4 linked regions of the Homo sapiens genome follow. The protein of the gene in region 4 interacts with the protein of the main gene of each other region in a biochemical or structural test. Each region holds a gene or a part of one and is shown on either strand. Other genes may lie near its edges.

Region 1 (3,500 bases), on a different chromosome or scaffold from region 4:
GCATTGCCTTTGGCTGTTAGGTATCTCTTGTAATAATCTCCTATTTATTACTTTCATTCTGTTGATTTGTTGAAGAAACAGGCATTTGAGCTGTAAGCTATTCTTTAGAAGAAATTGAACTCCTTTCTAACTGCTTTCTTCCCTTTGTGTGTGTATGTGTGTGTGTGTGTGTGTGTGTATTTAAAACAATCTATCTTTACCCTTGGTGGTAACCAATCTTTACAACTGAAATAAATAGTAAATAGTTTCTTGCCATCTGTTCACCCACATCACTGTTGTTTCATACCTCCTTTTCACAAATCCTAGCATAGGGTTTCTCACTGGATAGGCATTATCTTGTTTATTGAATGAAGAAGGAAACAGACACAAGGTGGTTTGTCCACGTAAGTGGGATTTAGTTATATGGGAATGTTTATGGAAGGCAGGCTATTACTTTGTTTCTCTTTAGTTTGGATCTTTTTTGTCTCATAGGGAGATGCAAGATACATGTGTATTTATCTTATTTCCATGTACTAGAAAATAAGATCCCAAAGGGTAGGGATCTTTCTGTTGCCTTTGCCCTGTGATGTTTCTCAAAGACCTAGAATAGTGCTTGGCACAGAGTAGGTGCCCAGTAAATGTGTTGAATTGGGTGACCCAATAAAAATAAATGCCATAAAGAAAATGTCCCAGGCTGGGCATGGTGGCTTAGGCATGTAACCCTAGTGCTTTGGAAGGCCAAGGCAGGAGGATCACTTGAGCTTAGGAGTTTGAAACTAGCCTGGGCAACATAGTGAGACCTTGTCTCTACAAAAAAATTTAAAAAGAAAAATTATCCAGGGGTAGTGTTGTACGCCTGTGGTCGCAGCTACTTGAGAGGCTGAGGCAAGAGGATTGCTTGAGCCTAGGAGTTCCAGGTTACAGTGAGCTATGATTGTACCACTGCACTCCAGCCTCGGCAACAGAGTGAGACTTTGTGTTGAAAAGAGAGAGAGAAAAAAATGTCCCAGCAACTGAGCATAGGGTATGACTTTAGGAATATATATTTTTGTTCAGTATATATTTATTTAGTATACAGTCCAGTCAATCCCTGCTCTAAGGTTAGGATAATTCTGAGTGGCTCTGGGATCCCACAATTAGCAATCGTGCTTAGATACAATTAGCAATCTTGATGCTCTGAATTTGTGTGTGTGTGTGTGTGTGTGTGTGTGTGTGTGTGTGTGTGTTGGGGAATGTGCAAAATAGATGTGGAACCCATAGTTTCCTTAGACAAGAGTAGGTCTTCTGAGCCCTGCTTAAAAAAAGAATATGGATTTAAATCTGTTGTCCATCAGCTTCTAGGTAGAATTAAAAAAAAATGTATTGATGGTAAGTGGGGTGAGGAATTTTTAAAAAGATACACTGATGTCTGGAGCCATACCTTAAAAGGATTTCTTAGAAATGGATTGAGTTTTTGGGTTGGAGAAACATAGGGCAAAGTTAGGCAGTACTTTTGTCACTTTGAGACTTTCTCTGTTCCTGTGCCTTGAAATAGAAACTCAGTTTCTATGTAATACCACTTCTCTAGTCCATTCTTCTTTAAGTGATGATTCTTGCTTTCTCTTGTAGAGCTAAAGTTGCAGACAAGATCCAGCTCATCAATAATATGCTGGACAAAGTCAATGAGATGATTATTGGTGGTGGAATGGCTTTTACCTTCCTTAAGGTGCTCAACAACATGGAGGTAGGAAACAAATGCCAAGTGGATGTGAAATAGCTCTCCATGATAATAGCAGGTTGTATAAATGTAAAAAGAAAACAGTCTTTTGACATGAGCCCTGAAAATTCCCATTTTTATTTATTTTGGCAAGTCTTTCGTCTTTGCATTGTTCCTTTATATTGTATTGTGTCTGGTTCCTGTCTGCTTTGTGAGGCAGTCTTGTTCTTAGTATAGATGCTGACCTCCATCATTTTGGCTCCCCTGTGTAGATTGGCACTTCTCTGTTTGATGAAGAGGGAGCCAAGATTGTCAAAGACCTAATGTCCAAAGCTGAGAAGAATGGTGTGAAGATTACCTTGCCTGTTGACTTTGTCACTGCTGACAAGTTTGATGAGAATGCCAAGACTGGCCAAGCCACTGTGGCTTCTGGCATACCTGCTGGCTGGATGGTGAGTCACTTGAGTGGGTTGGTAGTGTGAGTGAACAGAAACTCTGTGGTGTCATTTATTCATTGATTCAGCCAATCAACAAGCATTTTAAAACAATCTCTATAGGAGATCTGTCAGAGAGGGCTCTGCATGTTGCAGTGAGTCCCTCATGGAAGAATCCATGGGAGAAAAGCAGTGCTATTGGATTACTGGCCTTCAGTAATGCAGTAATGTGTTGCAAAACTTTGTTGTTGTTGTTTTTTTTTTTTTTTTTGAGACAGAGTCTCGCTGTGTCACCAGGCTGGAGTGCAGTGGCATGATCTCGGCTCACTGCAACCTCTGCCTCCCAGGTTCAAGTGATTCTCCTGCCTAACCCTCCCCAGTAGCTGGGACTACAGGTGTGCACCACCATGCCCAGCTAATTTTTGTATTTTTCATAGAGACGGGGTTTCACCATGTTGGTCAGGATGATCTCAATCTCTTGACCTCATGATCCACCTGCTGCGGCCTCCCAAAGTGCTGGGATTACAGGCGTGAGCCACTGTGCCCGGCCCATTTTTAGTTTTATCTGTTTTTTCTTCATCTGTTTAATGTGTATTAAGTACTTACTGCGTACTGGAGATAGTGTCATGTACTTTCATGGTTTGGGTTGTTTTGGATTATGTTGCTATCTAGAAAGCTATATAAGAAAACTTTCTCATATGAAAAAATTAAGTATACTGATTACAAGCAGGGAGAAATGTAAGTGTATATTAAAGACTAATATAGTTGATTTTAGGGTGCTCCAAATATCATTTTGATTGCTGTATAAAATTGTATCATGTTTTTACATGCTAGTTTGCTTATTTTTCTTTTCAGGCATTCACGTATTATTTAGTTCAGTGTTTCTCAAAGTATGTTCCTAAGACCAGCAGTATCAGTATCATTTTTGGAACTTGTTAAAAATGCAAGTTCTTGGGTCCCACCCCAGACCTACCGAATCAGGAACTGAGGGTGGGGCCAAACAGTCTGTTTGAATAAGCCCTCCTGGTGATTCTCATGCATGGCAAAGTTTGAGTACTACTGATCTAGTTTACTGTCATTCCCAACACTATTGACATCTGTTGTTTTGTGGGGGACTGTTGAATTGTAAGGTTGTTTAAAGCATCCTTGGCCACTAGATGCCAGTAGCACCCTCCCAAGTTGCAACAACAATATTTCTAGACATTGCCACATGCCTATCTATTATGAAGGGGCAGAACTGACCTGGTTGAGAACCATTGATCTAGTTTTCACTAACATAAATAGTGTGGCTAAGAATGTCTTTATTAAATAACTTTTGAGGTTTTCCGTTAGACTTGATCTTCCATACAGTAGAATTTTTGAGTATAAAGGGCATGAACAGGTTTATAAAG
Region 2 (2,526 bases), on a different chromosome or scaffold from region 4:
AGAACAGATGGATTTACTCAGCAGGGTGGTGTAGGCCCACTCATGTAAAGACGACGGTGCTCACTGCACCTGGGGAGAGTAGGCCCCCATTCAAGGAGAAGCTGTTCAAGGTGACATTCGTATTGTATGCCAAATCTGAGGTTATGCTCAAATGCGACAAAAATAAACCTGCAATGACTTGGGAAGTGGTCTGTAGGTCCTTACAAAGCTAGAGGCTTCAGAGATGGAGCTTCAAATGATAATGATGGCACCACAGGGATCCACGCACTGCAGGTAATGAATGCACCCTTGGTTTTTACAAATGATGGTGGTTGGGATGAGACTCAGATTTAAGGAGCTGGCCCTCTGGTGCAGGATAATCTATGTTTGGCCCCTTCCTCCTCTTTTTTTTGGAGCAAAAAGGTTGAGCTAAGAAAGGAATAATCTTCTTTCTAGTCTGGATCATCCTTCTCCCTTTCTCTTTATAACCCAAAAGCCTTTACTCACTTTCTTTTCTTTTCCTTTTTTTTTTTTTTTTGGAGAGATGGGATTTTGCTATGTTGCCCACGCTGGCCTCAAACTCCTGGGCACAAGTGATCTGCCTGCCTCAGCCTCCCAAAGTGCTGGGATTACGGGCGTGAGCCACTGTGCCCAGCCTCTTTACTCTCTTTTTATTCAAAGGGCCCAGGGACTCTTGTTTTGTTTTTATTTTTTTTTAGAGACAGGGTTCACTCTGTGGCCCAGGCTGGAGTGCAGTAGTGCGATCACAGCTCACTGCAGCAGCCTTGATCTTCAGGGATCAAGTGATCCTCCTGCCTCAGCCTCTTGAGTAGCTGGGACCAAAGGTGTACACCACCATGCCCAGCTCATTTTTAAATTTCTGTAGAGATGGGGAGTCTCACTATGTTGCCCAGGCTGGTCTTGAACTCCTGGGCTCAAGTGTTCCATCTGCCTCAGCCTCCCAAACTGCTGGAATTACAGGCATGAGCCACCAAGTCCAGCCCTTCTTGCTCTAGTTTTTAAAATGGTGGGTGACTTCCACCCTGAGAAGGGATGTGAACACTATGGTGAAAACTTATTTCCTATGAAGTTTACTCTGGGAAAAAGAGAGAGAAAGAGAGAAGACATATAATAAAGCTAAGGAAGTATGTCTGCCTGCTTACTTGGATTTCAGAGGGTTGGGGTGGGGTGGGGATGCTCTGCCTGTCTCCCCTTCCCCTTACCTAGCTTAGAGTCTACTCGTTCTCATTAGTCTGTTCTCATGCTGCTAGTAAAGACATACCCAAGACTGGGTAATTTATAAAGGAAAGAAGTTTAATGGACTCAGTTCCACATGGCTGGGGAGGCCTCACAATCATGGTGGAAGACGAAGGAAGAGCAAAGGCATGTCTTACATGGCGGCAGGCAAGACAGTGTGTGCAGGGAACTCTCCTTTATAAAACCATCAGATCTCATGAGACTTATTTGTTTTCATGAGAACAGCCCGGGAAAGACCTGCCCCATGATTCAATTACCTCCCACTGAGTCCCTCTCTCAACTTGTGGGAATTATGGGAGCTACCATTCAAGATGAGATCTGGGTGGGGACACAGCCAAACCATATCACAATTTCTGCCCTGAAAGGTGGCACGCCAGTGGCCTTAGCCCTTACAACCTCCCAACCATCACCTTCCACCTCTAGAGACTGGTTCAGTATCAATGAAGAGAACTCTGGTAGCCTATATGTCGATCAATGATAAAATTGTGAGAAAAAAAAAATCACTATTCTAGTTAGGAGTCAGCAAACTACAACCCCAATCCAGCACATCACCAGTTTTTATAAATAAAGTTTTATTTGAACACAGCCGTGCCCAGTTGCCTGTGTATTATCTATGGTTGCTTTCAGGCTGCACCAGCAGAGCCGTGTGGTTGTGACAGATCATCTGGCCCACAAAGCCTAATATATTCACCACTGACATTTTACAGGCAATGTGTGCTGCCTTCTGTTCTAGATCAAGAACTAGCCAAGCATGGTGGCTCAGGCCTGCAATCCCAGCACTTTGGGCAGCTGAGCCCACTTGAGCCCAGGAGTTTGAAACCAGCCTGGACAACATAGTGAGACCTTGTCTCTATAAAAAAAAGTAAATTAAAAAAATTAGCTGGGTGTAGTGGTGCACACCTGTAGTCCCAGCTACTCAGGAGGCAGAAGCAGAAGGATCGCTTGAGCCCATGAGTTCAAGGCTGCAATGGGCTATGATCATGGCACTGCACTCCTGCCTGGATGACAGAGTGAGACCCTGTCTCAAAAAAAGAAGGAAAAAAAAAAAAGCAACTGACAAAAAGTCCAGAAAAAACATGGTTCTTACAATCACAGTGCCATCTGGAGGCTGAAAGGCATCATGCCCTTCCATTTGTGCCCTGTACTTAATAAACAGAATTTTTTTTAATTTTTCTAACGTTTTCCATAAGCTCTTGCTATAATGACATTTTTAGTCATCTAGTTTGGAAAAAAGTCAAGTATCAATATATAAATAACTACTTAAAAATTATAATCTAGATTGTGAAAAAT
Region 3 (3,500 bases), on a different chromosome or scaffold from region 4:
AATAATAACCCTCTCTCAACCACATAACCCCTTCAGCAGTTATAATCCTCTCTCTTGGCCAGACACAGTGGCTGATGCCTGTAAACCTAGCACTTTGGGAGGCCGAGGTGGGTGGATCACCTGAGGTCAGGGGTTTGAGACAAGCCTGGCCAACATGGCAAAACCCCATCTCTACTAAAAATACAAAAATTATTTGGGCGTTGTGGCACACGCCTGTAATCCCAGCTACTCGGGAGGCTGAAGCAGGAGAATCACTTGAACCTTGGAGAAAGAGGCTGCAGTGAGCCGAGATCGTGCCACTGCACTCCAGCCTGGGTGACAGAGTGAGATTCTGTCTCAAAAAAAAAAAAAGAAAAAGAAAAAAGAAAAAAAAATACTCTCTCTCCTTTATAGCAAATAAATAAGTAAATAAATGAATCCTAGAATACAGGCTAATAAGAATAGGATATAGCTATGTTATACTTGTTGCTGTATCTCCCCAAAGCCTACCACAGTGTTTTGTTTATAATGGGCAACACAATAAATGTTAAATAAACGAATGAAAAACATTATCTCTCTTTGCTACATCTACTTTCTCATAAATACTACAATATGACTTCTACTTCATCATACCACTGAAAGTGTTCTGGATAAAGCTACAAATGACTGCTTTATCAGTAAATCAGAGGATTCTGCTTGATTTCTTGGTGACAACTGACTTTTGACCATTACTCCTGTCCCTTACAGTTTCCTAGTTTTCTTGTATATGCAACTTTATATGAACTGTTACATGCACTTAAGCTTACATCATGAGTTATTTTCCCAAGTTACTATCCTTCAAAAGTGTGATTTTCAATAACTCTATAAAAATACATGATGCTATTGATTGACTGCCATTTTAGACATTTAGGTTATATCCTGTGATCCCTATTATCTCATTTGTTCTCTGCCACAGGTGTCTGGAATGAGGCCAGCCTTCCTTTTCTTTGGTAACTATCCTTGGGACTTCCTCTCCCATCAAGCCTTGATTTGGAATGAGACTGTCTCTGAGCTCCCTTCTTGCTGTCCCCAAAAACAAATTCATATGGTTCCCCTTCATCTGAATTTTTACTGCTAATCACTATAGGAAAACATGCAATATTTATTTAGCACATACTAAGTTTAAAGCACTGTGCTAGGTTTGAGGATAAGGCAGTGATAGACATAAACACAGTCTGCTTTGAGCTTAGGAGCTTGTATTCTAGAAAGAAAGATGAACTCTAATTACTCAATTATTTAAGTAAAACTTGTTACATATAATGAAGAACAAAATGGGAACTTCCAAATCGTGTGTGTGTGTGGTATGGGGGGGTGATCATGGTGGTTGTGGTATTTGTGAGAAGGCGTCTTTAAGGAGCAGACATTTAAACTGAAATCTAAAGGTTATGTAGCAGTTAGCTAGGTGAAGGAGAAAAGAAGCTGGAAAATGCTGTATATACAAGCATGGGAAGCAGAATGGTGAATATAAAAAATGGAAAAAAGTGGTTAAAGTGCAGATACCGAGGAAAGAAGGTGTATGTGCTAGATGGGGCTAGGCACAGGTAGGGGCCAGATCATTTGGGCCTTGTTAGTTATTTAAAAGATTCTGTTATTTATCCCAAGAGCTATGGGAAACTACTGAATATTTTTAATGAGCAGGGTGACATTAAATTTTTATAAAATCATTCTGGCTACAGCATGGATAATAAATTATAAGAGGATAAGAGCAGACAGAAGATCAATTAGACTGTTAGAGAAGAGATGATGGTGGCTTGATCTAGAGTGGTAAAAGTATCATGATAACAAGTGAATGAAATTGAGACAAATAAGAGGGGCTTTGTAAGCTCAATAGGACTAATGGTTAAATATTAGGAGTGGGGGAGAGAGAGATGTCAAGAAGGACTCAAATTTCAGGCCTGGGTAACACAGCAGACTGCAGTGCTTATCACTGAAATAAGAAACACTGGAGGAAAGCCAGATATTTCACTTTTTGTTGGTGGGTTGAAGCAGAGGTTAGAATTCCTAAGTTCAGTTTTGGAAATGTATTAATATAGCTGGGAAACAGCAATAAAGGTCAAGAATATTATAAAAAATAGGTCTGGTCTTTAAAAACAGGGGCATTATTAATACACAGATGATTGTTGAAGTCACAGGTGTGGCTCAAGTTGCCTAGGGAAAAAAATGTAATATGAGAAAAGAGCCTAGGGCCAAGCCTAAAGGAACAGTTATATTTAAAGGTCAGATGGTAAAGATAGCCTTTGTTAGTAAAAACAACCAAAGAATAAAGAGGAAAACCAGAATACTGTGGAATCATGTCTAAGAGAAGAGAGTTTTAAGAAAGAGTAGCCAACAGTGTCAGGTGCCACTGAGAGGACAAACAGCCGAGACTAACAAAGGTTCTGGGAAAGTGGAGGAGATGGAATTCAGAGCATAGGTAGAAGAATCTACCTTAGGAAGAGGAACCCCATCCTGCTGAAAAAGGAAAGAAAGAGAAGATGGACACTAACACAGGTAGCTCAATTCTCAGTTGATGGCTTCAACCTTGTTCTGTGAAACAGAGTGAAGACTGAACAGAATGAACTCAGGCGTTAGAATGTGGGGTTTAAACAGAGTCAAGAATTTAGGTGGAGGCTGGGCGCGGTGGCTCACACCTGTAATCCCAGGCCTTTGGGAGGCCGATGCAGGCAGATCAACTTGAGGTCAGGAGTTCAAGACCAGCCTGGCCAACATGGTGAAACTCTGTCTCTGCTAAAAATTAGCCAGGCATGGTGGTGTGTGCCTGTGATCCCAGCCACACAGGAGGCTGAAGCAGGAGAATCGCTTGAACCCGGGAGGCAGAGGTTGCAGTGAGCCAAGATCGCACTACTGTACTCCAGCCTGGGCGACAGAGCAAGACACTCCATCTCAAAAAAAAAAAAAAAAAAAAAAAAAAATTAGGTGGAAAAGAAGTCTGGATACCAGGTGCCCTATTATCTCAATACATGAGGTGGAATGGCTGAAGAGACAAAAATCAGTCTTAAGGAGAATAGGGAAATAGAGCCAGATTGCATGAGTCTCAAGGAAGTCCACATTTTTATAAGAAGTTGGGGGCAGTAACAGTCTGGAAGTGGCAACAAGAAGGATGGCACCGAAATGACCTCCAACCCTGAGGGATTAGGGTTTGAGAAAATACATAGCTACAACTAGAGGTAAGTCCAGGGGAAGCAGCATCCCAAAGAAGGAATCAGGTTTTAGCTAAGGCAATGAGGAAGACTATTAGGAGAATAATAATTCCTAAGGCACATGGGAGGGAGGGAAAGAATGAAAGGTAAAGTCAGCAGAAAAGAAGTACAAAACACAGGGATGAGAGAATGGAAGAGGGCAGGTGTGGGGAGGAGCGGGTGCTTATTCTATGGATATTGCCCATGGGAAGTAGGGAACAGTAAAGAAAACAAAAGAAAGTTACAGAGCCCCCAAGTTCTATGTCAAGATTCCAGGTCTAAAGTTCTTGCTTCCTTCTGAGG
Region 4 (5,900 bases):
TGTGAAATGTGAGTTCCCTACATTTACAAAATAATGTAAACCATGAAAGCCAAGGTTTATGATTTGGCAGGAAGGTTACAAAAAGCAGTGATAAAAGACAGGAAATCAGGTCGAGCCTCAAGGGAAATCCAATCTAAAAGAATTACTATAAATTTAACTAACTATTGCAAGGTTAGAAGGAAAGTGCTAGCAAATTGCAAACACTTGACTGAAAAATGTATTTAATTCACATATAATCCCCTCATCCCTGCTAAATATCTACTTTAAAATCTTATAAATTATATACAAGTTCAATTAAAATATGTTTAAATTGCCTACCCAGCCACTGTTAGGCACTGAAGTTCAGCTGCAATTCTTATAGGATGACTTGTTGGAATCAAGTGTTTTAGAGCAATTTTCTCTTCAGGTCCTACTTGTAACTGTGCTGTGGCCAAATAAACAGAGCTGAAAGTGCCTGTAAAACAATTTATTAAATTTTTCAATATCTGGTTTTTAAAAATGTTAATGAAACAATTCTAAGATAGATTGTAAAAACTGTTTCAATGGCATAATACATTAAAACAGGACTTCATTTTACAGTAAATATTTATTATTTATTCTTTCTTTAAGGTTGAAAAAGAAAAGCTGTTACCATAATTAGTAATAAAACTATGGTCTTAATAGTCTAAAAAGTGGTATATTTTTCAATAAGAAATAGTAATGAAAACCAAGACTAAAAAAGGAAAATAGAATGGAAAAAAGACCTCGTAAAAATAGTAAAAGCATATCCCCAGATTACCTTCTCCAATTTTGTCCTCAATCTTAAACACATTACTAAGCTGTGGTACAGCTTCATAAAGCTTCTCAATATCTTTTTTAACACCTTTCAAGGAAACAAAAATTTAGAGTTTTAATCAATGACAGTATATTTTACAGTTTCTTAAAATTTAAAAAGCTCAATGAAATAAATTATAAAATATGAGTAATTAATTATACATAAGTTTTAATAACATTGTGATAAGATTAAAACCCATCAAGTTGCTATAACTCACACACACCTCTTGAACAGACAAAAATGACAGTCCCAGAATTAAATACACCAAATTTCTACTATACTGGAATTATATACTAAGAGATACATTGTTACTGTAGAGATTACAACATGAAAAAGCACCAAATTTTTAAAATAACTAAACAATTTGTGCTGTGATCACTAGATGGCATGACAAGGACACATTGCGATGTTCTTGAAAACTATTTCCCGTAAAGATACAAAATCTTAAAGGCTTGGTAAAATTTTATGTATTAAATATTCACACTATATTTTCAGAGAGAAGGCCTACTAAAGCTCTCAAGCATGTAAAAAAGTATTTTTAAAAATTTGTCCCAATTGCCAGTAGTATCCTCTATCCTTGACTGCAGATAAATTGCTACTTTTAAATAAGTATCAGTTCTTTATAAAAATGTACATAGTTAAAACAAGGGGAGGCAATAATACAAAACCCAGTAAACTACTGGATACAGAAGAGAACTAGATAAGTCTTCAGATTTTATTACAGTATCTAGGCTCTACTAGCCCTATATAGCATAAGTTTAAGACATTTTCAAAGCACCGGCACATGCAGTATCTTTTGAGGTCTTCCTAACAGTACTGTGAACTTGGCAGAGCAGGAATGATTATCCTGATTTTTCAGATAAGGAAACTCAATTCAGGGAGGTTAAATCATTTGCCCAATTTCACAGAGGTGTTGCTGATTATATATATTTTCTAATTTTCTTTCTTTTTTGAGATGGAGTCTCACTCTGTTGCCCAGGTTGGAGTGCAGTGATGTAATCTCCACTCACTGCAACCTCTGCCTCCTGCGTTCAAGAGATTCTCATGCCTCAGCCTCATGGGCAGCTGGAATTACAGGCACGCAACACCACGCCCAGCTAATTTTTGTGTTTTTAGTAGAGACGGGGTTTCACCACAATGGCCAGGCTGGTCTTGAACTCCTGACCTCAAGTGATCTGCCCACCTTGGCCTCCCAAAGTGCTGGGATTACAGGTGTGAGCCGCCGCACCTGGCTAGAACTAATTCATTTAAATAAACGCTGTCTTAAAAAATGCTCAGCAATGGGTATGTAAAAAAAACCAATAAATTTGATGCAGCCACTAAGAGCTTGGTCTAGTAAAGGAAACATGTTATCATTCTTAATACAAGGTGACACCTGTAATAAAAGAATGTATATACTACTAGGTTGGGGAGGATTTCTGAAGGTGATAGGAAGCCTTCAGTTGACAGCTAAGTTTTGTTCTGAAGCATTCACCAAGTAGTGAAAGTGGAAGAAAACATTTTAGGAAAAATTAACTACGTCTGTAAAGACAGGAACAAGAAAAAAAAAAGGCTTGGATGATTAGGGTAGGGGGAGGGCTGAGAGACAATGAAATACAATGTGGCCTGGGGCGGTGGCTCAGGCCTGTAATCCCAGCACTTTAGGAGACCAAGGCAAGAAGACTGCTTGAGGCCAGGTGTTTGAGACCCTATCTCTTAAAAAAGCTAAAAAACAAACAAACAAACAAAAATTAGCTGGGCTTTGTAACACGGGCCTGTAGTCTCAGCTACAGAGACTGAGGCAGAAGGATACCTTGAGCCCAGGAGTTTGAGGTTACTAAACTATGATCGTGCCACTGTACTCCAGCCTGGGTGATGGAAGAGGGAGACCCTGTCTCAATAATAATAACAATAATAACAATAATAGAAATAGAATGTGGCTGAGGAAGACAAGAGAGAATGCACATGAAAGCTATAGGAAGTTTTTAAGCAGAAAAATGACAAGTGGAGAACAGATGTGAAAGGGAGGAGAAACATTAAGGGTACTTCCACACCACTACTCACTTATTATGCATCTACTCCTCTTTACAAAAATCAAAATGTTTATTAAGGTTTCCTGTCACTTCAGAACAACTTCAACAATTTTAAACAACAGTAAAACTTCCTGGCAACCAAAGTGAATGCAATATCCTCAAATTCTGAAGTGGGAAATGACAGCAGAAAGCAGAAAAGTGCATTCATGTCAAAAGCTGGAAAACAGTACTAAAGACAGACAAATGAAACAGACTTTGAGGACTGGAGGAGGATCCCGAAAATCTATAATATGCTAAAAATTATTTAAATGCCTCTATTTTATACATGAAGGTCTAGGCTTCTATTTTGACATTTTAAGTCACTTTTGTTTTCTGCTGCATAATATATCCAAGTTGGTTTTAATATACCAATAGTCTCCTTAACTACACTCCTTGCCAGCCTGGAGTCTATCTGTAACATAGTAGCCAGTCGGCTTGCAACATAGCAAACAGAGTTTAAACAGAGTATTCTGATAAAGCTAAGTCACCTTGTCACTATTGTGCTCAAAACCTCTAATGGTTTCACATCTCACTCCATTAGAAAGCCTCTTTACATCTCTCTTTGACTTCATTCCAATTACCTTCCCCATTCTAGCCACAATGACCTCCTTGCTATTCTTGAATGCTAGGCACACTCCCATCTCAGGGTCTTTGTACTTGCCGTTTCAGGGTCTTTGTACTTGCCGTTTCCTCTGTTTGGAATGCTCTTCCCCAAATATCTGCACAGGTCACTCCTTCACCACCTTGAAGTCTTAGCTCAAATGTTACAGAAGGCTATGAGCAACCATACTCACTAAAATTACAATCTCCTTCCCCAATACTTCCTATCTCCCCTTCCCTTTTACATTTTCTTAGTAACATTAATCACTTTTGAGCACAGTATTTACTTCTTTTGTTTACTCTCTGTCTATTGTCTAACTACCACAGTGTTAATTTCTGTTTTATGGTTTGATTTATCCCTAGCACCTAAAAAAGTACATGTATATAACAGACAATAAATATTCATCACATAAATGAAACGTTTTCAATATCTTGTCATGGATTAAAACTGACACTCTAGGCATATAGTCATGGTTATTCTGGGGCTTCATGTACTCTCTGGTTTATACCTCCTGGAACTAGGGGATAATACATAATATAAGCCCAAACTGGGACACTCTTGAGTGAAAAGGCAGCAGGAATAATAATTACATTGTGACAATAGCCGTAAGCTAGATCTGTCCCAGGCAAACAAAGATGGTACCCATAGCCCATTTTAGAAGCATGGCTAAGGGTGTCATTGTAGCAAACAGAATGAAGCAAGCCTTCCTTCCAGTAGAGTTCACCAGTATGGAGGAGACTTTCAATATAGAGTTTATACATCATTCTTTCACTGAACAGATCTTTCTCACTTATTAAAACTTGGCATATAGTAGATACTTAAAAAAAAATAAAAGCTTACTGGCCAGGCATGGTGGCTCACACCTGTAATCCCAGTGCATTGGGAGGCCAAGATAGGAGGGGATCACTTGAGGCCAGGAGTTTGAGACCAGCCTGGGCAACATAGCAAGATCCTGTTTCTAAAAAAAATATTTAAAATTAGCTGAGTGTAGCGGCACATGCCTGTAATCCAAGCTACTCAGGAGGCTGAGGGGGTAGGATTGCTTGAGTGCAGGAGTTAAGGCTGCAGTGAGCTGTAATTGCACCACTGCACTCCAGTGACAGTGGTGTGACAGAGAGACCATGTCTCAAAAAAAAAAAAAAAAGCTTGCCAAAACAGTGAAAGAATAAACATTTGACCAATATTATGCCAGATAGTTTGTGCATTACAGCATTTTTCTTAATAGGAAAAAATAGAAACAATCTATAGGGTCAATAGTAAAAGGTGATTGAATATATTATAATATAATATGCAATGGACCTTAAATCCAGTTGTAGAATATTTACTACATGAGCAATATTCAAGATATATATTAAAAAAAATGGAGATCAGAAATAAGATCCCATATTCTGGTTCTCTTTTCAAAAACAAAAACAAAACAAGATCCCAATTTAGTTTCTAAAAAATGTACCTATGTATGCCTAGAAAGGCTAAAGGAATATAACAAAATGTCAACAGTGGCAATATTTCAATAATGGGAAAAGACTTTATTTTGGCTTTCTTTACTTCAAAAATTTCAATAATCATGTTTATCAGAAAAATGTTATAAAAATCTGACAAATATCTCAAAATAAAGAGACATGCTATTCATCCATTACACTAAGTATTTTACTTTATATCCTTACATTAAATCATTCATTCAAATATTTTCAAGCACCTACTATGTGCTGGACACTGTTAAGCTCTGGGAATGCTAAGATATATAAAACATCCAATCAAAAATATAACTTCAATAAGGAGTAAAGTTGATGAGGTGCAGGCATATACCTGTCTCATGATCTAATTTGATTTACTTTCCCAATTAGATTACTAGACTGTTATGTGCCTGGACCTCATCAGCTTTGCTCCCTATTGAAGTTATGTTTATATAACTTTAGCTGTTATTAAGATCATATTTAAAAAAGAACCATAAGAGTAAAGTTTTAGCACGTTTTATAATTTATCATATTATAATGTCCAATGTTCTGTTACATAAACGCTACAAAACTTTTGAAATCCGTAATAAAATTCACCCCATTCATTACTTCCCAGCAGATTTTCAGAATATTAGAATAGTGGCATTCTCCTAAACATGATGCTAGAACCAATTCAGAGTCATCCATTCAGATACTCTGCTGAAGTCACAACATACTTTAGAAACCAGAGGAGATACTGCCGCCAAGGGGTTTACAGTGGAGACAAAATGCAGAGTCCTAAGCAATAGAAAAAGAATACTACAATGACTGTGTTACTGTGTTATGTGTCCAGTGACTAGTAAGGGAAAGATGAACTAAAAAAACAGCTAACTGCTGGAAAAATGGAAAGGAAGAGGAACAGTATCCATGAAACTGGATGAAAGTGGCATTTTAAGATTATTCTAGCACCAACATACAAGATGAACTGAAGAATGGAAAAG

The links.
Region 1: the proteins of CDC7 (region 4) and PGK1 form a complex in vitro, tested with the Homo sapiens proteins (one study listed by BioGRID).
Region 2: the proteins of CDC7 (region 4) and MCM10 form a complex in vitro, tested with the Homo sapiens proteins (one large-scale study listed by BioGRID and IntAct).
Region 3: the proteins of CDC7 (region 4) and ORC5 form a complex in vitro, tested with the Homo sapiens proteins (one large-scale study listed by BioGRID and IntAct).

Annotation. Positions count from the first base shown.
Region 1 is NC_000023.11:78,121,248-78,124,747, forward strand, and holds part of PGK1 (phosphoglycerate kinase 1), read left to right. Parts: intron 1-1,587; coding exon 1,588-1,702; intron 1,703-1,947; coding exon 1,948-2,127; intron 2,128-3,500. UniProt on the Homo sapiens protein: Catalyzes one of the two ATP producing reactions in the glycolytic pathway via the reversible conversion of 1,3-diphosphoglycerate to 3-phosphoglycerate.
Region 2 is NC_000010.11:13,206,558-13,209,083, reverse strand, and holds part of MCM10 (protein MCM10 homolog), read right to left. Parts: intron 1-2,526. UniProt on the Homo sapiens protein: Acts as a replication initiation factor that brings together the MCM2-7 helicase and the DNA polymerase alpha/primase complex in order to initiate DNA replication. Additionally, plays a role in preventing DNA damage during replication.
Region 3 is NC_000007.14:104,131,514-104,135,013, forward strand, and holds part of ORC5 (origin recognition complex subunit 5), read right to left. Parts: intron 1-3,500. UniProt on the Homo sapiens protein: Component of the origin recognition complex (ORC) that binds origins of replication. DNA-binding is ATP-dependent. The specific DNA sequences that define origins of replication have not been identified yet.
Region 4 is NC_000001.11:91,502,816-91,508,715, reverse strand, and holds part of CDC7 (cell division cycle 7-related protein kinase), read right to left. Parts: intron 863-5,900; coding exon 779-862; intron 455-778; coding exon 319-454; intron 1-318. UniProt on the Homo sapiens protein: Kinase involved in initiation of DNA replication. Phosphorylates critical substrates that regulate the G1/S phase transition and initiation of DNA replication, such as MCM proteins and CLASPIN.